Homo sapiens: one gene and its partners. The protein of the gene in region 2 interacts with the protein of the main gene of each other region in a pairwise test. Each region holds a gene or a part of one and is shown on either strand. Other genes may lie near its edges.

Region 1 (7,598 bases), on a different chromosome or scaffold from region 2:
GGGGTATAGGGGCCACAGAGAATGGAAGATTATTAGAATTACTTTTAATTCTCTTTCCTTCGGACCCTCAAGGTCCTCACATTTATCACTCAAAATATATGTAAACATCAAATTAGCATGTTTCCAAGAGCACTTTATCTAAGCTCTGTTTTAAGTGAAATAATTTTAAAAATCACTTCTATATGATACTGTAACTAAATGCCACTCCAAGTTAAACACAGTTCTACCTAACATCTGAGTAACTAAATGCCACTCCAAGTTAAACACAGTTCTACCTAACATCTGAGGTAGAAATACTGACATTAATAGTAAGAAAGCATTACAGTGAAACAATTTTAAACAAAAGGACTCCTCAACCTGTGGGGAAGAGTTGTATGAGTTGTGTGATATAGCTTGGGATAATTAAAGATAATACTAGGTAAATTTGCTCAGCAAGACCTAAATCATCAGTGAAAAGCTTTAAATAAAAACTATAAAAGTTTGATGACAATCCATATCTCAATAGGACTCAAAAAATAAACTCTCAATAATATAATTTTTTAATAATAATAGTAAACACTGACATAGAAGTCACAAGGTATGCGGCGAAACCCCGTCTCTACTAAAAATACAAAAAATTAGCTGGGCGCGGTGGCGGGCGCCTGTAGTACCAGCTCCTCGGGAGGCTGAGGCAGAAGAATGGCATCAACCCGGCAGGCAGAGTTTGCAATGAGCCGAGATCGAGCCACTGGCACTCCACCTCAAAAAAAAAAAAAAAAAAAAAAAAAAAAGAAGTGACAAGGTATGGGATTCAAGAAAGAACACAGACCATACAAGGTTGAAATAAATCTTTGCAATAAGGATTAAAGAGAACAAGGACAACTGGTCACTAAGCAAGTCAGAGGCAAAGCTTGGACTGAATCCTAGCTTTGCTCAACCAAGCTAGTGTTCTTTCAATTCTATCATGCTGTTTCTATGGTTTAAAAAGCCCAGGTAGATGACCAGTATCTGACCTAAGGATATAGCAAAAAAAAAAAAAAAAATTATATATATATATGAAGACAAAACAAAAAACAAAGAAAAACACTAAAGCACTTATCTGTGGACTCAGTAAGTTTCTAAAATAAAGTTTACGCAAGGTGAGGTGGCTCACACCTCTAATCCTAGCACTTCAGGAGGCCTAGGCAAGAGGATTGCTTGAGGCCATGAGTTTGAAAGCCCAAACAACATAGCAAGGCCCCTCCCCACCACACCCAACAAAAAAATTTTTTTTAAATTAGCCATACATGGTGACAAGCCTGTAGTCCCAGCTACTTGGGAGGCTGTGGCAGGTGGATCACTTGAGCCCAGAAGTTAGAGGCCGCAATGGGCTATGATCACGCCACTGCACCCCAGCCTGGGCAACAGCATGAGACCCTGTCTCTATAACAAGGAAAAAATAAATAAATAAAATAAACTTTAGTGATGAGACAAAAATTCCAATTTGTTTAAACTGGTATTTTGAAGTTATGGTGGTTCTGCTATTAAATGCAAGGAGGGAAACTAAAATGAAGATATTGTCCACATTTGAACACATTTGGCAATAATCTGAGAAAAACCTTAAGTTAGCCGAAGGTGACAGTCTTCCCAACAACAATCTCTTACATCACAAATTTCTACAACAAAAACAGGTGTTTTATCTATCATACCATCAAACATAGTTAACAGCACAGACTATATCTCCCGGGCTCAAATCCTGACTCTACAGTTCAGATTCCCACCCCTATCTCATCTCAATAAAATCACAATTTCCCCAGGTTATAAAAGCCTCTAATGTTCATCCTTGCTCCTCCAGACTGTACCCTTATTAGCAGGCTAGGTTATAGAGCCAGCACAGATATACTGAGGCTCCAACATGTCCTGTATAATATACTGGAAGAAAATATATATTACCAATTATGCTTTGAGTTCCCCAAGACCACCCTCATGTTCAGTAATTTGCTAAGAAGATTCAAAAGATTCAATATACAGTTGTACTCATCGTTATGATTTATTATAGCAAAAAGATACTAAGCACAATCAGCAAAGGAGAAAGGCACAAAAAGTCCAGGGGAAATTAGGAGCAAGCGTCCGGGTGCTCCCTTCCAGTTGAGTTGCAATGAACACACTTAATTCTCCCAGCAGTGAGCTGTGACCACACATGTAAAATGATGCCAACCAGGGATGCTCATCAGAGACTCAGTGCCAAAGGTTATTAGGGAGACTGGTCATGTAGGTAACCCTGGCTGGCACATATGCCAATTCCAGAATCCCAGAAGAAAAGCAGATATTCAACATAAACCATATTTATTATACAAACAACTTAGGCACAATGACAGACTCATCACTTAGGGTGGTGGGACCATCCCCAAGATTCCCCTCAGATGTCAGCCAACCACCGCAAGGCCTGCTTTGTTAACTCTTTTCTCCACACCAATGACTAACAGATCCTTTTGAGCATGAACCTTATCTACCTATCCCCTGCTAATCCCCAGGTCCTAAGAAAGTGCCAGTCACTCCCCTCCAAGTTGTTTTTTTCTTTTTTTTTTTTTTTTGAGATGGAGTCTCGCTCTGTTGCCCAGGCTATAGTGCAATGGCACGATCTTGGCTCACTGTAAGCTCCGCATTCCGGTTTCAAGTGATTCTCCTGTCTCAGCCTCCCCAGTAGCTGGGATTACAGGAGTGCACCACCACACCCAACTAATTTTTGTATTTTTAATAGAGATGGGGTTTCACTATGTTGGGCAGGCTGGTCTCAAACGCCTGACCTCAGGTGATCCACCCACCTCGGCCTCCCAACATGCTGGGATTACAGGTGTACACCACTGCTCCAGGCCTCCTAAAATTTTTTTAATGAAAAAATTTCTGGCTCCACTACTTTAAGTTCTGTGTACCTGGGTAATAATATTACCTACCTCAAAGGTTGTTTTGAAGATTATATGAGTTAGTATATGTAAAGTGTGAAGTACATCATCTCTGGTAAAAAAAAAAAAAAAAAAAAAAAAAACACTATATAATTTGTGAGTATATATGTAATGTTATTATTTGCTTTTTTTTTTTTTTTAACATTCTCCAGGTCACAATGGAGCTACCCTATCTCTAAACTTCTAATGAATCTACCAATGTAAACATAGATTAGAAGTTAACTGGTAATTGTTTCATGTCTACTGAGATCTCTAACTAGCTTGTAGACAACTATATCCAAAACTTTTTGTTTTTGTTTTTTTGAGATGGAGTCCCACTCTGTCGCCCAGGCTGGATGGAGTGCAGTGGCGCCATCTCGGCTCACTGCAACCTCCGCCTCCAGGGTTCAAGCAATTCTCCTGCCTCAGTCTCCCGAGTAGCTGGGACTACAGGCATGTGCCACTGCACCTGGCTAATTTTAGTATTTTTAGTGGAGACAGGGTTTTGCCATGTTGGCCAGGGGTGGCCTCAAACTCCTGGCCTCAGATGATCCACCTGCCTCAGCCTCCCAAAGTGCTGAAATTACAGGCATGAACCACTGCACCCGGCATCCAAAACTTTTTTAACACACACAGTAGTATCTAACGTAGTACTTAATCTTTTTAGTGCCCAGAAAATATTGATTTATCAACAAAATTAAATGTCTGTTAAATCAACTCTTTACAGTGGTAAGAATGTAAGGCGGTCAACTCTTCTGATAATAACTACAAAATGGCCTCCAAGTTTCTTTGATCTTCTTTCATTGAGAAAATTGAGAAACTGAACTAAAATGGCTTAATTCTAATCCGTGAAAAGACGATTAGTAGAAGCGTTTGAAATAAGCAAAAGGGGCTGGGTGTGGTGGCTCACACCTGTAATCACAGCACTTTGGGAGACTGAGGGAGGCAGATCACTCGAACCCAGGAGTTCAAGACTAGCCTGGGCAACATGACGAAACGTGGTCTCTACAAAAAATACAAAAATTAGGTAGGCATGGTCGCACACATCTGTAGCCCCAGCTACTTGAGAGGCTGAGGTGGGAGGATTGCTTGAACCAAGGAGGGAGAGGTTGCAGAGAGCCTACATCGCACTCCAGCCCAGCGACAGAGTGAGACCCTGTACCAAAAAGAAAAAAAAAGAAAAAAAAAATGCCAAAGCACTTTTTTGAGTTTATAAAGTATATCGTTTTAAACATTCTACTTTGCCTTAAAGAGAGCATGGATTCAAGTCTGTTATAGGTTAATAAAGGTGGAGAAAGATATATATATATATCTTGTACAGCAACAATTTAGGAGATGTAAGCCTCCTTAATTAATGAAGTCAAGTACTGAAAGTTTTATCTTAAACAAACAAACAAACAAACAAAAAAGACAAAGAAGAACTGTGAAGAACAAAAGGAGGGGAGACAACATGCAGCCCAAGTTTTAAACTGATGAGTCAGAGACCAATGATTTCCATCTCAGCTCTGATACCAGGGCTCTGCCCAATCAGGAAAAACCTCGAGATCAGCAGAATTACAAGAACAACAGACCCATCAGACTGAAGTTTCACATTTTGAGGAAACTTTTAGATTGGCAAATTTCTTTAGGTGAATTATAATCAGACTTTCACTTATATAAATTTGTCCTATAAGCATCAACATCATAATAAACACCAGTTCCCCAAGGTGAACTTTACTTTTTAGTAAATATTACTACACTTTAAAAGTAACAACTCTAAAATATCAAAGACTTAATGAAAAACATGAACTCTTGGATTGGCTCTTGCAATCAAATGGGCTCTACACGTTTCTACTTTTTGAAAAAGTTAGAAAGCTAAAAGACTCCCTTGAAGGCAAGGTATTGGACATAATTAGGATCTGCCAATTATCTGCACATGGAAAGCACAAGTGGGACAGAGGCCACATTCCTACAGAAAGGGCAACTAACAAAAAACGTCTACAGACACTAAGTGGTTGCAGCTCCATAGGCCTTATGCCCCCATCAGCATACCAGTCTCCTGGGTGAGAAGCAGTTATGACAGTGGGGCAGCGGTAGCAGTGGTGGTATGTGTGGCCTTGAAAGCAGTTCAGCAGTGGCTCCCTGACTTTCCCTCCTCCAGCCCTTCCAATGACTTGGTAAGTACCTGATTCCTGAAAATAGCTACAGTGGATCTCTTTCCTGCTCTATACCCTGACTTATATATTGACATTGTGTGAATTTAGGTCCTCTTGCCCTCTTCTTGGACCACTGTTCAACATCTCCTAACTCAGGATTTGCCTGCAATCCTCACTATCCCAGTTCTTCCTCTGACCTGAGACTACCAAAACTGATCATGCTTAAAGAAAGCTTATCTAGTAAGGGCCGTATGGAAACTTCTTCTGTTCTTTCATACTGGTACATGTGTGTGTGCAGCTGTGTCCTTTAATTCCTTCTCTATCTGATGAAATCCCACTCCACCTTCAGAACCTAGCTCAAATGAAGACTCCTTCTGTGACTGGTCCCAACAGGGTCACTCCACATGCCACTCCCTTTCACAGGTGCACTCCCTTTCACACACCCTGCTGCCTGCCAGGGGCTCTGTGCTCATTCATTCACACATTCATTCATTCAAAAAATATTTGCTAAGTTACATTTGCCTACCACATGTCCTGAAAACTGGGGATACTACCCTAACCAAGATAAACAAGGTCTCCTCTCTTACAGCTATAATCCAGCAGGGATACAGTGTACCCCATAATTACCTAAATAATGTTTAATTACAATTGTGATAAGTGCAATAAAAGATTCAGGGTGTTGTCTTTTATGTATAAACGGAAGCCTAACCTAATCTCAGAGGATCAAGGAGAATTATTTCCCTTGAAAAGACATTTAAGCAGGAATTGAAAGATGAGCAAAAGCTGAGCAGGCAAAAACTTGTTAGAAAGCTTCCCAGGCAGAAGAACAGCACGTGCAAAGGTCTTGAAACAGCATTCTAGGAACTGTAAAGACCACCAATGGGCAAAAGTCAAGGTGCAAGGGGAACAACAGCCCAAAATAAGTATAGAGGTAGTTATTTCTTAAAACCATTATTACAAGCACTTAGCACATCGTTTTAGAATCATTTATTTGCAAAAACACAACCCACACTAAACAAACTCCTTTAGGTCTTACAAATTTTTTTAGCTCTCTTACCTAATACAATATCTAACAGTGTGTCTTCAAGTCAAGATCTGCGGAACAAAGAAACGAGTGTTTGATCTCAGCAATGAGCTTACCCTCTCAATATCAGACAGGCTAAACAAAACAATCTCTAGAGTTAAAAAACCTTATGTTTCTGACTACCCAAAATTGAATGGGCAAGAGACTCACTTTCATACCAATTTAAACATGCTCAAAATCAAACCTAGCAAAAGATGGAAACAGACCAAATGTTCATCAATAGACGGATAAATTGTGGTCTATCCATACAATGGAATATTATTCAGCCATAAAAGGAGTGAGGTACCGACACATGCTACAAAATGAATGAACTTTGAAAACATATGAAGTCAAAGTCAGAAACAAAAGTTCATATGTTGTATTATATTAAATATCCAGAACAGCCAAACCTACAGAGATAGAACATGCAATAGTGTCTGCCAAGGGCTGGGGAGAGGGGATAGTGGGAAGAAACCGCTCAATGTGAATTTTATCTATATGTTTTGTTTTTGTTTTTGTTTTTCCCTGAGACGGAGTCTTGTTCTGTCACCCAGGCTGGAGTACAGTGGCGCGATCTCGGCTCACTGCAACCTCCGCCTCTCCGCCTCCCAGGTTCAAGCAATTCTCTTGCCTCCGCCTCCCACGTAGGGATTACAGGTGCCTGCCACCATGCCTGGCTAATGGTTTTTGTATTTTTAGTGGAGACGGGGTTTCACTATGTTGGCCAGGCTGGTCTTGAATGCACTTTTAAAATCTCAGAAATATACATTAACAAGCATGGGACATGTCAATGTGGTACCTGCCAAGCCCAGCGATGTTTTCTAGGAGCCCTACTCAGCCAAGTTCAGGCTACTCCTGATGTCCAACACAAGATGCCCTATTCAGAGCATGTGAAAGAATAGAGAAGTGAAAAAAAAAAACAAAAATCAAAGCTAGAATTACCTGTAGATAACACTTTAAATACTGAAAACTAAACTTGAAGCTGGCAAGGCATTCCCAGTCCTCACTGCTCCCTAAAGTGCCACCAACTAATAACCAACAAGAGCTGCTTTAAACTCCCACTGAGTCATGAATGCAGCTAGGAGAGAGGAGGAGTAGTTCCATCTGCCTGTTCTTAAATTCTCCAGTTGTTCAACAGATTTGGTAAGAGCAGGATCAAGAGCAGGAAACTGGCGCCTATGCCATCCTTTTCTCCTTCGTTGCTTCCTAAATACTGTCAATCCAGGAAACACAGCTGGTGATTCAGTAAGAAAATGTCAAAACCCAATTGACATACCTCTACCAACTATGATAAGGCAAGATAATACAGGCACCTCAAATCCTAAGCTTTAGTTTTGGTACATATTCTCAAAGATCAGTGGAAGAAGCTTCTTTGAAAGAAAGAAAATTGAGTTAACTAGGAAATAACTTTGAAATACAGTACATGAAAAGTTTGATGCAATTTACTAGACAGTGAAGAAAACATCAATACATACACAGAATGAAACTTCTTAGTAACTG
Region 2 (8,036 bases):
GCATTCCAACCTGGGCGACAGAGCACGACTCCATCCCAAAAAAAAAAAAAAAAAATCAATCAATCGAAAGAGGACCTGTCTCCTGGGGAGGAAAAAAAAAAAAGAATGTCCAGGAATTCATCACTCGGCAGACACTTGGCCCAGGCTTTATATACAAGATCTCACAATGACAACAATTTCCAGACACTGATGTTTTATGATTTCAAGGGGTGGAACAAAGAATATCAGTGTCTCTGCCCTGGGGATCAACCTGGGAGGCCCCAGGCTGATTCTCAGAGCTGTGGGGTTCGGCACTCACTGGGTCCCAGGTTCCCAGCTGAGCAGTTGTTCCCACAGGTGAGGTCTGAATGCTCACAGCCACCTGGTGGGGCAGACATGCAGATAACTCCATTCTACAGCGGGGGAGACTGAGCCTGGGAGGGAGGGAGGTGCCCACAGTTCAGGTGGCTGATGACCTTAAGGACCTCCAGGGGGCCCCAGCTTCTCACACACTGCATGCACCATGGACCTTGGGAACAAGATCTCAGGCAACAGTAACTCCATGGAAACTTCCTCCCAGGCGGCTTCTGGTATCATCCCCACTTTACAGAGAAGGAAACTGAGGCTGAGAGAAGTGTAGTCTCCAGTTCTGTCTCGCACGTCAGCGGCAGAGCCAGAGCTGGGCCAGCACCTGCCCCGGAGCCGGTGCCCTCCTGATCACCCGGCGATATGGCCTCTTAGGATGCTCCCCACAGCCCCACGGAGCTCAGAGGTCCCTTTCTCAGAGGAGGAAACTGAGGCTGAAAGAGGTTTCGTCAATTCCCGAGGTCACACAGGTGATGAGTGGAAGAACCAGGGGTAAAATTTAAATCTCTTTGGCCCCCGAGCCCCGCTCTTCACCCCCAAGTCTACCTAGGGACCCTAGAAACAGAATGAGGCTGGTCTCCTGCCCTGCTCCCACTGCAGGCCAGGCCTGCAATATGGCTCATCTGGCTGGATCATGGTGACAGCTTATCATTGTCCCCACTTTGCAGAGGAGGCAACCAAGGCCCAGAGAGCCCACATGAGGGGTCCAAGGCCACACAGTGAGAAAAGAACAAGATTTAAACGCAGACTCGGCCGGGTGTGGTGGCTCACGCCTGTAATCCCAGCACTTTGGGAGGCCGAGGCAGGTGGATCACCTGAGGTCAGGAGTTTGAGACCAGCCTGGCTAACAAGGTGAAACCCCATCTCTACTAAAAATACAAAAATAAGCCAGGCATGGTGGTGCACGCCTGTAATCCCAGATACTTGAGAGGCTGAGGCAGGAGAATCGCTTGAACCTGGGAGGTGGAGGTTGCACTGAGCTGAGGTCATGCCACTGCACTCCAGCCTGGGCCACAGAGTGAGACTCCGTCTCAAAAAAAAAAAAAAAAAACCAGACTCATGTGGCTTCATGCCAGCCCTTGGCAAGACCCTCCCAGCTCAGCCACATTCAGGGCCCTCCCTTGTCAGCCACTCCAGCCTCTCTCTGCAGCCTCTGTTGGCTCCTCTGTCCAGCGGGGACAAGGAGCTGGGTGGATGCACCCACTGCCGGCCATGAGACCTGGGGGAAGCTGGGATCCACGGCACAGTTAGAGCCTGAGCAAATCAACTCCGTGATCAACAATGTGATCCCTGAAGCATCCAGAAATTCACACACAGTGGGCAGCCCTGAAGTCGGACCTCACTCTGTGGCAATCACAGCCCTCGCTCGTTCCTTTTGGGAAAACCGCATCACACCTCCTCTCTGTGGCAGTCTGTCTACCTGCTTCTACCCTTCTGCCCTTCATTCATTCATTCATTCCCTGCATATTCACTGAGCACTCACTGTGTGTCTAGGACTGACCCAAGCACTGGGAATACAGCCGAGAGCAAGACAGACAAGGCCTCAGCCCTCCTGACAGGGGCAGACGGGAAACAAGGTGTCAATCAAGAGTTTTGCAGGAGACCGGCTGGGCGCAGAGGCTCATACCCATAATCCCAGCACTTTGGGAGGCTCAGGCGGGCTGATCACTTGAGGTCAGGAGTTCGAGACCAGCCTGGACAACATGGAGAGACCCCCCATCTCTACTAAAAATACAAAAAATAGCTGGGCATGGGGGCACGCGCCTGTAATTCCAGCTACTCAAGAGGCTGAGGTGGATGGACTCCTTGGACCTAGGAGGTAGAGGTTGCAGTGAGTGGAGATCGTGGCACTGCACTCCAGCTTGGGCAACAGAGCAAGACTCCATCTCAAAAACAAACAAAAAAAAACTTTGCAGAAAGAAGATCAGAGAGAGTGACTGTGCTGGAAGCTAAGAGGGCGGGGGCGTGAGGATTCCCCAGTCCCGAAGTAGAGCCTGGGCTGAAAGCCAGAGCCTCTGGGTGCATTGAGGCCCTAAGTGATCAATTCACCAGCACAGTGATCCCCAGTCATCACATTCCTGGCTCTCTCGGGCAGGCCCAAGTCCACCCGGAGTTCTTCCTGTTGCAGCCACAGACCTGGGCTCTCTGCGTATATGTCTGTTCCGTCCCTTGTCTGTCATTCATCCATCCATCTATGCAACACATATTTAGGCAAATCCCAACCACACGCTGGGCACTGGGGAAAAATCAGTGCTCAACAAGGGAGGGAGACAGGCCATTTGTGGATCATCGCGCAAATGAAAATTTCAGGCAGTGCTAAGAGTTTTAAAGAACATCCAACAGAGCGGTATGCTGAGGAGTTGCCTTAGAACCACGGTGAGAAGCCCCCAACCCCGGATGCCGTCAGGGCTTGAGGGGACCCCCTTGCCCACAAGCCACCCTGAATCCTCCCAATGCCCCGAGTGCCATCAGCCAGTCCCTGCTGTCTAACCTTACTCCCTCCTGCTGCAATCACAGCCTAGCCCCGTTTCCACAAATGCCAGGACGGCACCTCTGTTTTGTGTGTGACTATTCAGCAAACATCACCTGCAGAGCACGGCAAACACAGCCACGAATAAGATAAACCCAACTTCTCCCCTCTCTTTTTTCTCCCCTCCTCGGTCCCCTCCGCCTCTCCTGCAGACGCTCACCTTCAGAAAGGAGGGACGGGGCTCTCCCGTGGCCCAGGACCTAGACAGAGCGGCCAGACAGCAGAGGCTGAAGGAAACACATCCCCTCACATGGGGAGATTTTAAGCCTGGGCCGGGAGTGATGTCATTTGTCATGGCCTGGAACTCGGAGGGTAATCCCGGCCAAGGTGGGGGACTCGACTGGGCACCAGGAGGTGACATTGGCTGGGAGGGGGAGGGGCACCCGTCTGCTTAATCCCCTCCTCTTCCCCCCATGACATCTTGGCAATTAGGGCTGATGGGGAAGGGAGGCCCCAGCTCCTGCCGGTGACCATAAGCCCCTACTCCTCAGGGAAGTCCTTCCTTAGGTCTAACTGGTGTCTCTCCAGCTTCAGCTAGTATCCCAAGAGAGAGGCATCAAAGAGGAAGGAGAGCACTGTCAGATGGTCCTGAGAGATCGTCTGAAAAAAGAGAGGCACGGAGCTTTCGGGATCCCTCTCCTGGGTCCCCCTTTCTCTCCACAACAGTCTGTCCGACAGCTAGTTTATCTCTGTAGTGCCTCATTGGTCTCGGTTTCTGCCTCAGTTTCCCCTGTTTCTCTCTCTTTGACTTGGTCAAGTCTTGTCTGTGGCCTCTCTGTCTCTGTGTTGTCAGACATGATATTCTCCTCTTTTTGGGGGCGGAGGTGGCAGGGGCTGCTTCCAGCACTGAAAATAGGCAGACTTATTAGAAAGGGTGTTTTGTTTTTCTGTTTTTGGTGGAGTTTGGGGTTTGGGATTTTTTTCTTTTTTTTTTCCTTTTTTTTTTTTTTGGTTGAGACAGGGTCTCACTCTGTCGCCCAGGCTGGAGTGCAGTGGCATGATCACAGCTCACTGCAGCCTTGACCTCCTGTGCTCAAGGGATCCTCCCTCCTCAGCCTCCCCAGTAGCTGAGACTTTACAGGCACATACCACGATGCCCAGCTAATTTTTTTATTTTCGTAGAGATGGAGTCGCTCTATGTTGCCCAGGCTGGCTTCAAACTCCTGGCCTCAAGCAATCCTCCCACCTCGGCCTCCCAAAGTGCTGGGATTGCAGGCGTGAGCCAACAAACCCAGCACTCACCATCTCTCTACACACCATTGGTCTTTGTCTGGCTTCTCTGTACCTCAGTTTCTTTTCCTGTGGGCCTTAGGCTGTGGCATTTCTGCCTACTTTCCTGAATACCACTCTTTCATTCTCCATCTGCTCCTCTCCGTCCCTGTCTCTGTTGATAAACCTGCATTATCCCCTTGGTCTCTCTTATTCTTTTTCTCTGTGTCTCCCTGTCTATCTTGCTCTTTCTCCCCTCTCCCTCAGCCTCCATGTCCTTCTGTTCCTGTCTGTCTGTCCCTCCCTTTGCTGTCTTTCTGCCTGTCCACCTGTCCCTGTAACTCCAGCCTCATCTCTGTCCCTCTGTCCTCGCTTATCCTCTGCAGCTCCAATCTCTGTTCCTCCTTCTCTTTTTCCCTGTCTCTCTCTCTCTCTCTCTCTCTCTCTGATTCTTGCTTCCCCTCTCCCTGGATTGCCCTTCATTTCTGTTTTGTTTTGTTTTTGTTTGGAGACAGAGTCTTGCTCTGTCACCCAGGCTGGAGTGCAGTGGCACCATCTCGGCTCACTGCAACCTCCACCTCCCCGGTTCAAGCAATTCTCCTGCCTCAGCCTCCCGAGTAGCTGGGAGGATTTCCTTTCATTTCTGTCCTTCTCCCTGTCTTGGTACCTCTGTTGCTCTGTATTTCTGATTTTCCTGGTCTCTGGCCCTCTTTGTGTCTCTCTCCTCTCGTCTGTCTCTCTAGATATTAATATGTCCCTGAGCTCCTGGGTCCCACACGGGTCTGTTTCACTTCCCCGTGCACCCAAACACGCACGCAAGCACACACACACACACACACACACACGCCCGGTAATCCCTCCTTGTGGCTGGGTCATTGTGTCTCAGCCATAAGGGGCCCTTTCTTTCTCCTCCTCCCTCCCCCAAACCCCCTGCTAGGAGAGATTAAGGCTACAGGCCTGGCTGAGGAATCAGGACAGGTCTCATTAGCTTGAAGAGCCAGGGATGACAGCAAGAGAGGGAGGGGCCGTCTGACCCTCGGCGACCAGTCCAGAGGCTCCTGATGGGAGAATCCAGTCCTGGAACAGACCCCCTGGCCCTGCAGCAGGGAAGGAAGGTCAGCTGTACAGGGAGAGGGAGGAGAAAATAACTTCCAGCGGGACAGAGAAGGTGTCAGCAACTCTTAAATCACCTGCCCTGGGGAATCTGGGTACTGGTTGGCTCCTGGATCCAGAGTCCTTCCAGGGGTGGGGGTACAGAGAGGTGGGTTTCAGCTGGTCCTGCACATGGCCCTGGGATCAAGTAAGCTGAAATCAAATCCAAGCACTTCTTCTCTGAGCTAGGTCTTCTGAGGCAACTTGCTTTCCTTCTCATCTCCACCCAGTGGCTCAGGCAGAAATCTGGGCACTCAGCCTGGCCCCTAACCCCTTTCTCCTCACCACTTACATCCAATCCATCCATAAGTCCTGTCATCTCTTCTATCAGATCATTATCCTACTGAAACAATATAAAGCACTGCTGGAAGAAATTAAAGGAGACTCAAGTCAATAGTGAACTATACCATGTTCATGGTTTAGAAGACTCAATGTTATTAAGAGGTCAATTCTTCTCAAACTAATCTTTAGATTTACTGCAATCCCAATCAGAATCTCATCAGGATTTTTCTGTAGAAATTGATTGTCAAACTGATTCTGAAGTTGCTATGGAATATAAATGATCTAGAATAATCAAAGCAGTCTTGGAAAAATAAAACGAGTTGGAGAACTTACGCTACCTGACTTTGAGACTTATTGTAATGCACATGATTGCAGCTGGAAAAAGTGGGGTTAAGGATTAAGAAAATGTGGCACATATACACCATGGAATACTATGCAGCCATAAAAAAGGATGAGTTCATGTCCTATGCAGGGACATGGATGAAGCTGGAAACCATCATTCTGAGCAAACTATCACAAGGACAGAAAACCAAACACCGCATGCTCTCGCTCATAGGTGAGAATTGAACAATGAGAACACTTGGACACAGGGTGGGGAACATCACACACAGGGGCCTGTTGTGGGGTGGGGGGCAGGGGGAGGAATAGCATTAGGAGAAATACCTAATGTAAATGATGAGTTAATGGGTGCAGCAAACCAACATGGCACATGTATCCATATGTAACAAACCTGCACGTTGTGCACATGTACCCTAGAACTTAAAGTATAATAAACAAAAAAAGTGGGGTTAAATTCTGGGGACAGTCTGAAGATGTATGGAATACTGGAGGATCCTTGGATCAGGTTGTTGATGAGTTTCACTCCAGGCTCTACTGCAGGATGGGGGTGCTCCTCATACCTGCACCCCCTTAGCTCCCTAACACATTCATCCTATTTAATCTTTTGCAAAACTCTTACTGACATCTTGTTTCTTGTCTGCCCTTGTCAGGAGGATGGGGCCCTGTCTGTCTTGTTCTCAGCTGTATTCCCAGTACCTAGGACTGTCCCAGACACACAGCAGTAAGTGTGTGTTCAATAAATGTGAAAGAAATGGATGGATGGATGGACGGAGGGATGGATGGATGGATGGATGGATGGAGGGATGGATGGGTGATGGATGATGGATGGATGGATGGATGGATGGATGATGGATGGATGGATGGATGGATGGATGGGTGATGGATGGGTGGATGGATGGATGGATGGGTGATGGATGGATGGATGGATGGATGGATGGATGGGTGATGGATGGGTGGATGGATGGATGGATGGATGGGTGATGGATGGATGGATGGATGGATGGTGGGGCAGAACCAGGTAGAGACACTGGCACAGAGAAGTGGTGTGATGTTTTCCCAAAAGGACCAAGGGTCTGTGATTGCAGCACTGTGAGGTCAGACTGTGGGGCTGCCCACTAGTGTTTGAATCTCTGGATGCTTCAGGGATCATATTGTTCCTGAGTTAATTCATTCAGGCTCTAACTGTGCCATGAATCCCTGCTTCTACCAGGTCCCATGCCTGGTAGTGGGTGCATCCACTCAGCTCCTTGTCCTCACTGGACAGAGGAGCCTACGGATGCGGCAGAGAGAGGCTGGCAGGGCCAACAAGGGAGGGCCCTGAACATGGCTGAGTCGGGAGGGTCTTGCCAAGAGCTGGCATGGAGCCACATGAGTTTGGGTTTAAATCCTGTTGTTTTCTCACTGCGTGGCCTTGGGCCCTTCATATGGGCTCCTGGGCCTCAGTTTCCTCCTCTGCAAAGTGGATACAGTGACAAGCTGTCACAATGAGCCCTGGGAATCCCATGGGAGCAGGGGAGGAAGCTGACCTCATCCATCTTCTAGGAATCCCAGGCAGACTCGGGGGTGAAGAGCGGGGCTCGGGGGCCAAAGAGATTTAAATTCTACCCCTGGTTCTTCCACTCATCACCTGTGTGACCTCGGAAATTGACGAAACCTCTCTCAGCCTCAGTTTCCTCCTCTGAGAAAGGGACCTCTGAGCTCCGTGGGGCTGTGGCGAGCATCCTAAGAGGCCATATCACCTGGTGATCAGGAGGGCACAGGCTCCGGGGCAGGTGCTGGCCCAGCTCTGGCTCTGCCGCTGACGTGGGAGACAGAACTGGAGACTACACTTCTCTCAGCCTCAGTTTCCTCCTCTGTAAAGTGGGGATGATACCAGAAGCCGCCTGGGAGGAAGTTTCCATGGAGTTATTGTTCCCTGAGATCTTGTTCCCAAGGTCTGTGGTTCATGCAGTGTGTGAGAAGCTGGGACCTGTGGGCACCTCCCTCCTTCCCAGGCTCAGTCTCCCTGCCTGTAGAATGGAGTTATCTGTGTGTCTGCACCACAAGGTGGCTGTGAGCATTCAGGCCTTACCTGTGAGAACAACTGCTCAGGTGGGAACCTGGGACCCAGTGGGTGCCGAACTCCACAGCTCTGAGAACTAGCCTTGGGCCTCCCAGGCTGATCCCCAGGGCAAGGACA
Region 3 (7,391 bases), on a different chromosome or scaffold from region 2:
AGCAGAAAGCCCACAAACCTCTAGGCTGCCCCACCTCCCACCCCACAGCATATCAAAGCCAGTGGGAAAAGCACGCAAATTAAGGAAAACCACGCGTGAGCGCGGCTTTTGGGGTGAGACTCCAAGACCAAGGGTGGAAAGCACCCTTCGATTTTGAGAACAAATTCCAAAGAGTTTTGCTGGATAACATCGGAGGGTCCTTTCTCAGGAAAGACAATAATCTTCAAGAAAACATTCACCCGGAGGGGAAAGAAAAGGACTCTTTTCCTTGTTTAACGTCATGGGCTGTGCTTTTATTTGATTTTTTACGATTTTTAAAAACTCCTTGCCTGAGCCATGACAATGTCGCCTTCCTTTTCCCTTTGCTCCTGCAGGGTCTCAGCAAAAAGTGTTCGACATTCTGGGGCAGGGACCTATGGCACATTTTTCTGCATTTCTTAGAGTTTTATTTTTTAACTTAGGAACCAGTATCAAGCACCAAATCCCCAGAAGAGTGGGCAGCAGCCTTTCCAAACACCTAAAAAGGCAGAATACCTGATTCCCCCAGTCTTCTCCCATGCTTTGAACTTAAACATCCAATGCAGGACGGGGTGTTCAGCGCGCAACTGGTTCCCAGGAGACTCGGTGCTTCTCCCTGCTCCTTCAGCGTTTGGTTTTTTAAAAAGTAAACTCACCCAGATCTCAGCGGTCTGGGTCGGCCTTTGACTTAGTTCATTCATTCCTTGAAGTGGCCTGACCCTTTTGGGAAGAATGGGAGGAGAGAGTGAAGTCCCAGGGAACGATACCTTTGTCTAGCCTCTAAAGGCAAAAAGCAATCTCCAGGGCGCATTCCGGACGGATCCGAAGCTCTAGGCCCTTCTACACCCAACCCGCAGACCACCAAGCTGGGCCAACGGGGGGCAGCCACCAGCCATCACTGCTTAAAGTCGCTCTATGCACTTTCAGCCTCCCCGCACCCGACTTTCCAGTCCCTCCAACCTGGCTCCTGACTTCAGATTTTAGGCACATCAAAGGTTACTTTTTTACAATGACAGATTGTCTTTATTCAAAACGTCTTTGTTCAACAAATGAACAGAGCAACGAGGTAAAATCCTTCTAGGTACATTTCCAAGACATCGTCAAAACATTTATGACCATTTAGGTTGTTTTTGTTCTTTTAATTTTTTGTTCACCTTCTACTTCCTGACTTCATAACCCGACATTCTGTCTAAAAGTAAACTTAGATCTCTAGAAGCACTGCTTTACACAAAGTAAATAACCATGTAGGTCCTTTTTGTTTTCCCTTTAAAGAAGCAAACACTATCATAGCATGGTTTTAAATAGAAATGTTTCCCTTTCTGTAATTTAAAACTTTGAAGCCTTTCCCCCCCATACATGAAGAGCAAATGGCTCCTAGTTGTGTCTGATGGCAAAACACAGAGACACAGCTAACTCTTTTCTTCAGGGGACAAAAGGAAAAAATATATGCATATTGTAGATATAATATCAGAATCTGGGAGTTCAGAGTCCAAAGCCTATCCGAGGAGAGTGAAGGGGATATAAATAAAGCAAAACTGCCTACTTTTTTGTCCAAAGGGGGTACAGTCGGAGATTTGTTTTGGGAGAGTCGGGATAGGGGCAGCTGTGTAGCTGACATAACGTTTGCAAGTTTCCGGTACCTGTCTGCGCCTTGGGTCCGGGAGGACGCCCCACCCTTCCCCCTGGAAGAGAGAGGAAAAGTCTGGGTGGTGTAAGGGACAGCGGCAGGGCTGACCCCGGAGGCGTCTGCAGGCCGGGGCTAGGCTCAGAGGACAGGGTGCAGACCCGGCTTTCAGACCACGCCTCAGGTCCGGGCCGGGCTGGGGGTTACATGGCCGTAGCGTGGGCTGACGAATAAGGGTCTATGCCAGTCTTGGTCATGCCTGGGAAGAGGATGTAGGCGACGGGGGGCTGCAGGGTGGAGGCAGACCAGGCGGTACAGTTACAGGGCACCACGTAGCCAGGGTTGGTGGGGGACGGGTGCGTGTGCGTGTGCTGGCTGGGGCAGCTGAGGCTGCCGAAGGCGCCGTTCTGGTAGCCCAGGGTGGACGCGTAGGGCAGAGCGCCGGTAGCCAAGGTGTGGGGCACTTCGCCCATCTTCTGGATGGCGCTCGAGCTAAACTGCGCGGGGTCCAGCAGGGAGTAGGGCGCCGAGGCCGGCGGCAAGAAGGCCCGGGCTTTCTCGGGCGCGCTCAGGAGGCCGTCGGAGGCCCCCACGGGCAGGCCAGCCGCCTTGAGCGGGTCCGTGTCGCCCAGGTAGGGCAAGGGGAAGACATACCTGTCCTTCTTGAGCAGGTTCTTGGGCTTGCGCCGAGGTCGGTACTTGTAGTCAGGGTGCTCCTTCATGTGCTGGGCGCGTAGCCGCTTGGCTTCATCGATGTATGGCCGCTTCTCTGCCTCGGACAGAAGCTTCCATTCGGCACCTAGGCGTTTGCTGATCTCCGAGTTGTGCATCTTGGGGTTTTCCTGGGCCATCTTGCGCCGCTGGCCCCGGGACCATACCATGAAGGCGTTCATGGGCCGCTTGATGTGGTCTGAAGGTTTGGACATGGTCCCGGCGGCTAGGTGGGTGGGGGTAGGGAGTGCAAGGGTTCTGCAGACGAGCCTGGGCGCGGCTGGCCGTCTGTCTGTCCGTCCTGAGCCGGGGTTCTGCGCTCCCCTCGCCTTGGCGCCGCTGAGGGGAAGCCAGAGAGAAGCGCTGACCCCACAAAGTTCAGCTGATCATGCCAGTCCCAGCGCCCAGGCAGCCCCGGGGGAGCGAGTGGGGGCAGAAAGGGCGGGGGAGGAGAGGGCGATCGGCCGGGGGGCTTCAGGCACCAGGGGCTGGGACCCAAGTATCGGAGTCTCCGGGATTAAGTGGCCAGGTAATTTTTTAGCCAGGGCAAGAAGCTCCTCCTTCTCCCCCTCTCCACCTTTGCCTTCTCTAGTTCCCTTCTCTCCTCTTGCGTTTCCAGTCGTGGCTCCCCCTTCCCGTGGCTTTCCCGGAGCTGCCGCGCCTAGCGCTGCACCTGGCTGAGAATGCGGGGAGGCTGGTGAACGAGAGCCAAAAGCGGCGAAGTTCAAAGGCGAGGTGGGCCGGGACTGCACGCACTCTGACATAAGCGCGGGGCGGCGACTCCCCAACCTGGGCGCCAATCAGCAGCAGAGAAGCCGAGGGGGCGCACCTGCCAACACGCCGGTGCAAGAAACAGAGAGCGCGACTGGTGGGGGCGGGGAGAGGTGTGAGGGACAGAGGCAGAGAGAGGGCTAGAGCAGAGAGGCTAGCTCTAGACTGGGGACTTCGGTTCCACATTGTCTCGGGCACTGTCAACAAATAAAACTCTTCCGCGTCTCCTGTTTCCTTTCCCGGTTGTGAAAGAGAATTAGGGCTTGAAATACAAAGGCCGGGGAAGGGACAGCAAAGGGAGCGAGGCGAGAGCTTGTGTTGATAAATAGGACAGCTTTGCCGCGAAATGCAAGGACAGCACTTTGCCCTCTTGTCAAATATCCTTGGAAGAGAAAAATAACATATAGCAGGCTCAGGGTAAAAGCGAAATAAACTTTTCGCGCCCCACCCTCGGCGGTGCTTTGGCAGTGTTCTCCCGGGAAGCCCCTGCAACTAGGCATCCACCCCTGCCCCAGGATGCGGCGCCCGGGCGTAGCGCTGGGACCCTGGGTGGCTGAGCAATGTTGTCTGACCTGCTCCTGGAAGGCCTCGCGTCAGGCAATGCAGAGATTTCGAACCCTAGTTGGTGAGCCCTTAAAAGCACTACGACCTGTTCTTCACTTTTGGGGCAGGGATGGGGCTGAGATTTCTATTGCAGTTCCCATTTATGTTATTATTATTTAGTGTCTTTAAACCTCCAACTTTTACTCCACAAATGTTCATACCGTAAGAAGAGCCTAGAGGCTGGGTATGGGGCTCTTCCCGGTGCCCCTTCTGCAGCGGCCCTACAGCGGAGTCTCACGGTGTATCGCAACCAGGGTCGGTTTGTCCCTGGGCGCCTCTTCCCACCCAGGGAGGCTGCGAGACTCGTTTCTTGCGTCAAATGAGCATTCTTCGGGTAAAGAGGACGAAATAACCCGCAGAGCCAACCTGCGCGCCTGTTTCCTTTGAATAATTGCCTGCCCGATGTGAAATGCCCTTGGGGGAAATATTTATTAAATGGAAACCATTGTCCCAGGCCCGGCGGGACCTGCGTGTGTTCCAGGCTTATTGGCTTTTGCACCATTCTCTCTTGGGAGGACCGGCCAGAAACGCGCAAGGCTCCGTTGGCTCCGAGGGGCTAGGAGTGGGGGAGGGTGACAGGGAATGAGGAGGCCGGAAGGGAGGATCTTTCTCTAGCATGTAGTGTATCAAGTTTGAGGAGAAGACTTTGCTTCCCCTTCCTAAAATTAGAAAGACGCGTGGAACTTCTCACCCTTGGCGCACTTTTCAGAGAGGTGGGCAATATCCCCATTTTACAGATTAGGAAACTAAGGTTGAGAAAAACTAGGTGATTTGTCAAAAGTGACTCTGGGAGTGATGCTTGATGTATAGGATTTGAAAATCCCTATTTTCACCCCCATTCCACTAGACGTCACGCCTAGGGATTTCATGGCTCTGCAGCCCAATGTGGAACACCTGATGAGACTATTGGGGCAATCGACACCTGCCATGCAGATAAACCACGCTGGAAAGACTGATCCTGCGCTTGATTTGCTTAGCCATGGGCTCCACCTCCGAGGGCTGGCAAACAGGTGCACAGCCTTTACATTCCTTCCCAACCCCAGCTCTGGCCTTTCTCCAGAGCCTCCATCCAGCCCTGTAACCCTGCTTTCTCTGCAGGAAGTTTCATTTAGCTTAGGGTCTCAGGAAGCAAACGCACTTTTCAGCCCAGTCTGGAAAGGGTTTCCGAGCGTCGCTGGCAACCCCTACTCAGGTCTGACCAGCGGTGCGCTATATTCAGAGCCAGCCAGGGATAGGAGATTCAGGAATCACCCAATTCTAATTCTACTGGGCGATCCCGACGGCTTTGGGAAGGAATGAGAGAAATACTGATATCTGCAGCGAGATCCAGCGTTCGGAGGGGACCCGCCAATCTCTCACTCTAGAACCCCCCAGGGGACACCAAACGCACACCCAAAGTTCTGGGTTAATGCAAACCAAGCTCTTGGAAATTACTCAGCAAGGGGATCTGGCACAAGGTCCTACGTCCTTTCTCTCCTCTCAGTTTCCAGGACAATCCTTTCCAGTTGCCCGGAGGCAGTTCGGGCAGGCGAGCGCCTTCCTGCAATTCCTCATATTTCCTTCTCCTCAAACGCCCGAGCTCCTCTCCAAGCTTCTTGTGTTCAGCCTTGGGTCGCAGCCAATGCGCAGTCCAATTCGCAATGAGGAGCGGAGTGATACGAAGGGCGTTCGATGGTGGGCAGGGCGCCAGCTGACCCCCCGACGTTTCGGAGACCCCGATTGCCTGGTCCAGCTGCACTGACCTAGGAAGGGGCCAGCATCAGCGCTGCGCGTCTTGGCCTTGAGACAGGAACTCCGCGCGGGGAGGGAACGCAGGGATGAGGGCTGCACCTTCCAGGCCGTGCATCAGCTTGTCTCCTAGGCGAACTGCAAAGCCACGCACACCCCTTACGCAGTACCGGTGACCACCGGTTTATTCAACACTCTTTAGAGCTGTGGCGGGAGCAGGAGTTCCCGTGATCCTGGGGTCTGGCCTGGTGCTGTCTCCAGCAGGTGCCTCTACTGCGCTGCGCTGTCCCTTCACGCTGTGCCTCCCTGACGGGTCTAAACCACCGGGTAGCACGTCCTGGAGACGTGACCCCTGAGGAGAGTCAGCAACTTCGGTCACAACCAGAACAAGCATTAGGACAGAGGTTGCCTAAATACTCCTCCTGCTTTGTCCACGGCCTGAAGTTTGGCCCCAGGCTACCAGTTCATTCTCCTCCAGGGCTGGAGATAACGCTTGGATGAGGTCTTTCCGCTTGCACATTTGCCTGGAGAAGCTGTGCACACGTTCAGTACACAGCGCAGCTACTCAAGGTCCGCTGCGTGCCAGCCTTAGCAAGGCGTCCGAACCCCCGAGCAACAGGGATTTTGTCAGGGAACCGCCGCTGTTTCCCGGAAGTGAAGGAAGAGGCCTCTAAGGGCACCGACCTAATCTGCTTCTCTCCGGGCCTTTCGTCTCCCTCCAGGGCGCAGAGCGTCCAGGATGCGCCTTCCTCTTTTCTGGCTCTGGGCCTCTCCTTTCACGCAGCTCCTGCGCGTACCTCAGGTATCAGTACAAGCCTCTCACTGTCTATGGGGAGACTTTTCTGTTTCCTGGGCTGGGCTAGGACCCCTTCTATGCTCTCACTCTCACACTTCCATTTCAATCCCTGTTCCCCAGCCTCTTTTGGGTCCCTGTCGCAGTCGGTGCAGCCCACTAGACTTCGAGCTTCTCTGGGGCTGTGGCTGCGTGTTATTCATCTTGGGTTCAATTTCCGCATAATTCCAAACTCAGAGAAGACTCTCAGTAAAGTTTCCTTCTGCCCAGGCCGAGGTGGATCTTCCCGATAGGTCTTTCCCCGCCTTGCAGCTGCAGGCACGGGGCCCGAGACACAGCCTGGTAGAGCCAGACGCGGCAGTCTGGGGCCCCAGAGGCCTGCACCCACCTGCCTTGCCACAAGGCTCCGCCCCACCCTCCGGCCCCCTCCTCTCTGGTGGGCAGAGGTCACTACTCCAAGGCCTCTGGGGCTGGGGAATGGCTGAGTGCTGGGAGTAAGGCGCACAGAACGTGGCTTAGAGAACGCGGTTGGGGATGGACGGAAAGGAGGCAGCTGGCTATGCCTCTCGAGCTCCAATGGCTTTCCAAAGAGGCCAGAAGAGTCACCTGCGTCCAGAGGGCCTGGGATGCTTGGGGCTTGCTGGCACCAGTCCTGCCCGCTCACTGTGGCCACTGGAAGATTTTGGTGAGCGAAGTCGCAGGTGCCTGTTGCGGGAAGCCTGAGAGCAGCGTGGGCTTCAGCTCGCAGCTGAGAGTGAGCGCCAGCGCACCCAGGTGTTTAGAGACAAGACAGTTAATCCGGCCCACCCCCCCAAGTGTCCATAACCCAGAAGCAAGCACTGAGGTGACAAAATGATCCCAGGAAATAAGAATCTTTGTTTAAATCATAAACTTTTAATTTTTTTATTATACTCTAAGTTCTAGGGTACCTGTGCACAACGTGCAGGTTTGTTACATATGTACACATGTGCCATGTTGGTGTGCTGCACCCATTAACTCGTCATTTACATTAGGTATATCGCCTAATGCTATCCCTCCCCCCTCCCCCCACCCCACGACAGGCCCTGGTGTGTGATGTTCCCCTTCCTGTGTCGAAGTGTTCTCATTGTTCAGTTCCCACCTATGAGAACATGCGGCGTTTGG
Region 4 (7,598 bases), on a different chromosome or scaffold from region 2:
GTTCTTTTCACATTATGGAAATGTTACCCTAAGTATTCCTTTCATATGAAGACAATCCTGAACCCCCAGCAGCCTGAACTACCTCCACTGCTGATCCCTGGTGACTTATAACTCCAACCGAAGACATTAGCTACAGATTTTGCTGCACAGCATCTCCTGCATTCTTTTGGTGGGGGGAAATTCTTTTTTTTTTTTTGAGGTAGAGTGCAGTGGTGTGATCTCGGCTCACTGCAATCTCCACCTCCTGGGCTCAAGTGATTCTCCTGCCTCAGCCTCCTAAGTACCTGGGACTACAGGCATGCGCCATCACGCCTGGCTAATTTTTGCATTTTTAGTAGAGATGGGGTTTCACCATGTTGGCCAGGCTGGTCTCAAACTCCTGACCTCAGGTGATCTGCCCACCTCGGCCTCCCAAAGTGCTGGGATTACAGGCGTGAGCCACCAAGCCCGGCTGGGGTCGGGGGAAATTCTACCATGAATTTCCTTTTTCCTCAAATATAGCTAAGTAGATTAACAGAATATTAATAGAGAACAATCATTGCAAATGTCAATAAGTTTCAAAAAGATCACGAAGCCCCAAAAGAACTTTTTACTTTTATCATTAATTTAAAGCAATAAACTAAGTCATTTAGGCTCAGTGAAAAAAATTCCAAAAAAATGTAGAGTACAAGCTATTCTTTCTTGGGGAAACCAGTTTGCAGCATATGATTCTAGACATCCTTCAATACCCATACACATTTACGTTTTTACATGCAACAAAATTTTTCAAAAAGTAAAATAAGCAAAAAAAATTGTATACTAAATATACCATACCAAATCTGTATGTTTAAGTGCATCTCCAACTAAAACTTACAGGCTGTTTTCAGTGACCATGAACCCAGGCAGTGAGCACAGCTTTGAAAGAAGGGCAGGCAGAGCAAATGTCCTGTGAGGACCATTGAAAAGCTTGTTCTATGTTATGGCAAATGTCAGAATGCAGCGATTATGGCAGAGGATGATAAGAAGTTGTTTACACGCTTATAATGAATAATTTCCCAACAAAAACCAATTATTAAAAATACCATATTATGGCCAGGTGCGGTGGCTCACACCTGTAATCCCAGCACTTTGGGAGGCTGAGGCGGGCAGATCATGAGGTCAGGAGATCGAGACCATCCTGGCTAACATGGTGAAACCCTGCCTCTACTAAAAATACAAAAAATTAGCTGGGCGTGGTGGTGGGTGCCTGTAGTCCCAGCTACTTGGGAGGCTGAGGCAGGAGAATGGCGTCAACCCAGGAGGCGGAGCTTGCAGTGAGCCAAGATCGCGCCACTGCACTCCAGCCTAGGCAACTGAGTGAGACTTTGTCTCAAAAAAACAAAAACAAAAACAAAAACAAAAAACCATATTATTTGAATTTAGGAACAAATCCATTTATAAGGCAAAATAATCATATGATTTTTTTTTAAGTAAATTGAAACCATAGTGAGATACCAATTCATATCCATTAGGATAAGTATCAACCAAAAAACCAGAAATAAGGGTCCAGGATATAGAGAAACTGGAATCTTTGTGCATTGTTGGTGGGAACATGAAATGGTATAGCCACTGTGGAAGACAGTATGGTGGTACTTCAAAAAGTGTGATTCTACTTCAAACGATATGTCCAAAAGAATTAAAAGTAGGATACATCTACTATGTACCCATAAAAATAAAAAACAAAAAATTATTTTTAAAAAATAATTTAAAAATAAATAAAAAAAAATTAAAAGCAGGAACTCAAACAAATATACATATATTTTTTGACAGGTTCTCACTCTGTTGCCCAGGCTGGAACGCAGTGGCATGATCATGGCTCACCCCAGGCTCAGGTGATCCTCCCACCTCAACCTCCCAAGTAGCTGGGATCACAGGGATGTGGCACCATGTCCAGCTAATTTTCCTTTTTTTTTTTTTCTTTTTTTTGAGACGAAGTCTCACTCTATTGGCAGGCTGGAATGCAGTGGTGCGATCTCAGCTCACTGCAACCTCCACCGCCCAGATTCAAGCAATTCTCCTGCCTCAGCCTCCCGAATAGCTGGGACTACAGGTGTGTGCCACCATGCCCGGCTAATTTTTGTATTTTCAGTAGAGACGGGTTTCACCACGTTGGCCAGGATGGTCTCGATCTCTTGACCTCATGATCCACCCGCCTTGGCCTCCCAAAGTTCTGGGATTACAGGGGTGAGCCACCGCGCCCGGCCTAATTTTCTTTATTAGTAGTAGAGACAGGGTCTCCTGTATTGCCCAGACTGGTCTCGAATTCCTGGGCTCAAGCAATCCTCTTGAGTCAGCCTCCCAAAGTGCTGGGATTGCAGGAATGAGCCACTGTGCCCTGCCCAAACATATACTTTTACACCAATGTTCATAGAAGCACTATTCACAATTGCCAAAAGCTGAACACAACCCAAGTGACCACTGACGGATGAATGGATAAACAAAATGTGGTATAAACCAACATTGGTTTTATTGGTAGATATTATTCAGCTTTAAAAAGAAATAGGCTGGGCGTGGTGGCTCATGCCTGTCATAGCACTTTGGGAGGCCCAGGCAGGCAGACAGCTTGAGTCCCAGAGTTTGAGTCCAGCATGGGCAACATGGTGAAACCCCATCTCTACAAAAAATTAGCCGAACGTAGTGGTGTGAGCCTGTGGTCCAAGCTACTAAGGAGGCTGAGGAGGGAGGATTGTTTGGGCCCGGGAGGCAGAGGTTGCAGTGAGCTGAGATTGCACCACTGCACTCCAGCCTGGGGAACAGAGTGAGACCCTGTTTCCAAAAAAAAAAAAAAAAAAAGAAAGAAATGACATTCTGACACATGTATAACATTTCAAGATAAGTCTTGTGAAACATTATGCTAAGTGAAATGGCCACACAAAAGGATAAATGTTGTATGATTCTACTTATATGAGGTTCTAGAATAGGTAAATTTTTATAGACAGAAAATAAAACCGTTGATTATCAGAGGCCGGGGGAAGAAAGGGAACAGGAGTTATTGTTTAATGGGTATGCAATTTCTTCTTGGAATGATGAAAATGTTGTGAAAATGGTGATGGTTGCCGAACTGTGAATATACTTAATGCCACTGAACTATGCACTTAAAAATGGTTAAAATGGCATATTTTAAATGTACATTTTACCACAATAAAAAAATAAGCAAGCTTTTGTGGTAATTAAACTATGGAATTCTTGATTCTCTACCCTTGTTACCCTTGTGAAGCACCTTCTCTTTGCTGCCCATATATGTGCAATATATGGTGCAATATCTATTGATGAGAACAGCAAAAATACATCAAATGGGTAGACTCCCTTGTTTAAATTTATTTTGATTCATTTTTATTTTTATTTTTTTTTAATAAATACAGACAGGGTCTCACTATGTTGCCCAGGCTGGTCCTGAACTCTTGGACTCAAGCAATCCTCCTGCCTCAGCCTCCCAAAGCGCTGGGATTACAGGCATAAGCCACTGTGCTCGGCCTATTTTGATTTCAATGGTGTTATTCCTGCCAGAAAGAAATCCAAGATAAGCAATAAACAGATTATTTTGGAATTGAGAAAGCTGGAGGGTAAAAACAAAAGCCAAGGCAGCATTTGAAGAGGTACATTGAAAGTTATCAAATAGTTTTATAGGAGATCTTGACATACACATTTTAAAAAGTAAAGCAGCTATTTTACTTAAAAGGAAGCTTACATCCATAATAGTTACAGGTATGTCCCGAATTTTATGAGGTTCCACATAAGAATTTTGACAATTCAAGGTAAGTCTTGAAGCCAGTTCACTCTGACCCAAACTTTCTAGCTGCAGGAAGAAACACAGGTAAAGTTTTTGAAATAATTTTGTTTTTCACATTTACATTAAATCCACAGACAACATTTGTGCTTATAAAGGTGGTATCATCTGTGGTGGGGCCAGAAAAGTCATCAGTGAGGAACCACAACTTAGGTGAGAGACCATGAACTGGGCTTCTCAGGAGGTTGTGGCATTTTTCTATTCTGGAAACCTGGGTACAAACCAATGAAACCCGGCCTTCTACAGCCCTCAGCCTACACTGCCTACTCCAGCCAGGTGCCCATGGGCAGCAAGCCAATTCCTACTGCTCAAAGGTGACAGATATATGTTTTTGTTTTTTTTTTTTTTTTAAGATAAACCTTTAAGGGATCTTAAAAGAGATTTGAGAAATCATCTAGCCCAGCAGTTCCTAAATGCAAGCCAACAGACCTGGTTCATCAGATTTACCTGGTGGGTAGAGGAAAAGTGTGAAGTAAAAATAGATTCCCAGATCCCATGCCCAGGGATTCCAGATGGATGATCTGCTGTGAGGCCTTACAATCTGTATTTTTGAAAGCTCCCCTAAGTGATTTTGATGAATAGCTGGTGGGAAGCACTGATGTAGGCAAGCCCTTACCAGCAATAATATCTGCTCAGATGTATTACTCTGCTTAGCAAATACCTCTTACACATACTTGTGAGACAGATCTATCTTCTGGAACCAAGTAGATGTGAAAATTCCCAATACAATGTGTCCCCAACCCAATGTCATGATCCTTACCCTGTCTACCATGAAATCAATGGCATCAGCCATCATAGGGTCCACCGGGCCAGATGAAAAATTTCCAAGAACTATTTTTTTGAGCATAAATGCAGGCATCAGCCAAAAGCTGTAAAACACAAAGACCTTATAATTTAAACTTCCAAGACTACACATGGCAAATATTCATTCAACATTAAAGCTTTGTATTAGCTTGGGATCTAGAAATAAAAAGTCCTAATCCCCTCCTCCAAAGAGCTCAGCATCTAGTTTTTACACACACTTTCCCAAGCTTCCAAAGAGTTATGGCTTCATATAATTAAACTTTTATTTGAGGATTTAGGATAATTATAAGAGATATTTCAAAATACCTTTACTGAGATAGACATTCTGATGAGTCCAAGATTGTTTTTTTTCTCTAATTGGCCCTATTTCCAAGGATTAAACTATTTCTTTTGGAAAACTGAATATTAAGAGAAGTATTCTTTCCTTCTGGTTGATATTATGTTTTTATCGATTGATATTTCAAAACAGATTTCAAAATACCAATATGAAAGCTATTGCACCTCCCCAAATTTGCTACTATTAGATTCAACTTGGCTAATTCAAGGCAAATTGATATTTATAGATTTATTTTTTAAATTTATTATTGTTATTATTTTTTGAGACAGAGTCTCAGTCAGTTACCCATGCTGGAAGTACAGTGGCATGATCTCGGCTGGGTGCAACCTCTGCCTCCCGGGCTCAAGCAATTCTCATGCCTCAGCCTTTCGAGTAGCTGCGACTACAGGCACATGCCACCACGCCCGGCTAACTTCTGTATTTTTAGTAAAGATGAGCTTTTGCAATGTTGGCCAGACTGGTGGTGAACTCCTGGCCTCAAGTGATCCACCCACCTCAGCCTCCCACAGTGCTGGGATCACAGGCGTGAGCCACTCCTGGCCTCTTTTTATTTTTTAATTAAAAAATTTAAAAAAAAACTTTTAGAGACAGGGTCTCACTCTGTTGCCCAGGCTGAAGTGCAGTATTGTGATCATAGCTCACTGTAGCCTCAAACTCCTATCAAGTGATCCTTCTACCTTGGCCTCCCGAGTAGCTGGGACTACGGGCTCGTACCACCAGGCCTGACTAATTTTTTAAAAATTTACTGAGCTGGGGGAGCCGGGGCCAGGCACGGTGGCTCATGCCTGTAATCCCAGCACTTTGGGAGGCCAAGGTGGGCAGATCACGAGGTCAGGAGATTGAGACCATCCTGGCTAACACGGTGAAACCCCGTCTCCACTAAAAATACTAAAAATTAGCCGGGCTTGGTGGCGGGCGCCTGTAGTCCCAGCTACTCGGGAGGCTGAGGCAGGAGAATGGCGTGAACCCAGGAGATGGAGCTTGCAGTGAGCCAAGATCGTGCCATGGCACTCCAGCCTGGGCGACAGAGCCAGACTCCGTCTCCAAAAAAAAAAATTTACTGAGCCAGGCGCAATGGCTCATGCCTGTAATCCAGAACTTTGGGAGGCCAAGGTGGGTGATCACAAGGTCAGGAGTTCAAGACCAGCCTGGCCAAGATGGTGAAACCCCGTCTCTACTAAAAATACAAAAATTAGCCAGGGGCGGTGGCCAGCGCCTGTAATCCCAGCTACTTGGGAGGCTGAGGCAGGAGAATCACTTGAACCTGGGGGGCAGAGGCTGCAGTGAGAACGTGCCACTGCACTCCAGCCTGGGCAACAGAGCGAGACTCCCATCTCAAAAAAGAAAATTTTTTTTCTGTAGAGACAGGATCTTGCTCTGTTGCCCAGGCTGGTCTAGAACTCCTGGACTCAAGCAATGCTCTTACCTCTGCCTCCCAAAGTGCTGGGATTACAGGTGTGAGCCACTGTGACTGGTCAGATCTTTACGGATTTCTATATATGATCTTTAGTTTATATTTATTCCATTAATTTCAACTGTTAAGAGCCATCATGGAGGGCAAACACTAATTTCTGTAAACCTATGACGAAAATTACTTAGATGAGGTGCAAACTACCTTCTGATGCTTATTACCACTGGGACAGCCTTGCTGGAAGTTGAGCTTCCCTCAAAAGGACCACTAGGTCACCTTCCAGTTAACTTTCTAAGTTCTCTCCCAGCCCCATCACTTTCTTATCTTTTGAAGGTGATGAGGTCTAAGTACGCTCTGTAAGGGGTGGACCCTGTTGACTTTGCTCACTCCTGGATCCTCAGTGTGTGGCACACAGTAAGCACTCAGATATTTGACAATAAGCAGCTGATGTGCCAGAGCACAAACTGAATGGGGGCTGTCTTGGCATTCTAACAATTAGAACAGCAATAAAAATCACCAAAAATAATGAGCATTATTTAGTGCATTATCTGGACGGGAAGGATTTGTAAAGTAGCTAATGTATACAAGAAATTGTTGCATGAATGCTGAGTAATTACTAAGATAACATCAGAAAAACTAAAAAATAGCTGGGCACAGTGGCTCATGCCTGTAATCCCAGCACTTTGGGAGGCTGAGGCGGGCGGATCACGAGGTCAGGAGATCGAGACCATACTGGTGAACACGGTGAAACCCCGTCTCTACTAAAAACATAAAAAATTAGCCAGGCATGGTGGCGGGCGCCTGTAGTCCCAGCTATTCGGGAGGCTGAGGCAGGAGAATGGCGTGAACCTGGGAGGCAGAGCTTGCAGTGAGCTGAGATCGTGCCACTGCACTCCAGCCTGGGCGACAGAGCGAGACTCCATCTCAAAAACAAACAAACAAAAAAACAAACAACAACAAAAAAAACTAAAAAATATCAGAGTGCAATTTTAAGTAGATGTGAAAACGATATTTCCCTATACATTATTTGAAAACACTGATCATACAGATGTGTTTACTCACTGGGCTTTTTTTTTGAAGTAGGGTCTTGCTCTGTCACCCAGCCTGGAGTACAGAGGCACAGTTGTGGCTCACTGCAGCCTTGAACTCTTGGGCTCAAGCGATCCTCCTGCCTCAGCCTCCTGAGTAGCTAGGACTGCAGGTGCATACCATGATACCTGGCTAATTTATTATTATTGTTA

The links.
Region 1: the proteins of CRX (region 2) and SMAP1 interact in binary tests that used the Homo sapiens proteins (3 or more experiments, as listed by UniProt).
Region 3: the proteins of CRX (region 2) and SOX14 interact in binary tests that used the Homo sapiens proteins (3 or more experiments, as listed by UniProt).
Region 4: the proteins of CRX (region 2) and SPG21 interact in binary tests that used the Homo sapiens proteins (3 or more experiments, as listed by UniProt).

What each region holds. Positions count from the first base shown.
Region 1 is NC_000006.12:70,670,605-70,678,202, reverse strand, and holds part of SMAP1 (stromal membrane-associated protein 1), read right to left. Parts: intron 1-7,598. UniProt on the Homo sapiens protein: GTPase activating protein that acts on ARF6. Plays a role in clathrin-dependent endocytosis. May play a role in erythropoiesis.
Region 2 is NC_000019.10:47,817,010-47,825,045, reverse strand, and holds the start of CRX (cone-rod homeobox protein), read right to left. Parts: upstream 3,110-8,036; 5' UTR 3,036-3,109; intron 1-3,035. Other genes in the region: TPRX1 (tetra-peptide repeat homeobox protein 1), read left to right, coding at 5,995-6,074, 6,508-6,578. UniProt on the Homo sapiens protein: Transcription factor that binds and transactivates the sequence 5'-TAATC[CA]-3' which is found upstream of several photoreceptor-specific genes, including the opsin genes.
Region 3 is NC_000003.12:137,759,962-137,767,352, reverse strand, and holds SOX14 (transcription factor SOX-14), read right to left. Parts: upstream 3,039-7,391; 5' UTR 2,569-3,038; coding exon 1,846-2,568; 3' UTR 1,019-1,845; downstream 1-1,018. UniProt on the Homo sapiens protein: Acts as a negative regulator of transcription.
Region 4 is NC_000015.10:64,965,549-64,973,146, forward strand, and holds part of SPG21 (maspardin), read right to left. Parts: intron 4,675-7,598; coding exon 4,566-4,674; intron 3,815-4,565; coding exon 3,707-3,814; intron 1-3,706. UniProt on the Homo sapiens protein: May play a role as a negative regulatory factor in CD4-dependent T-cell activation.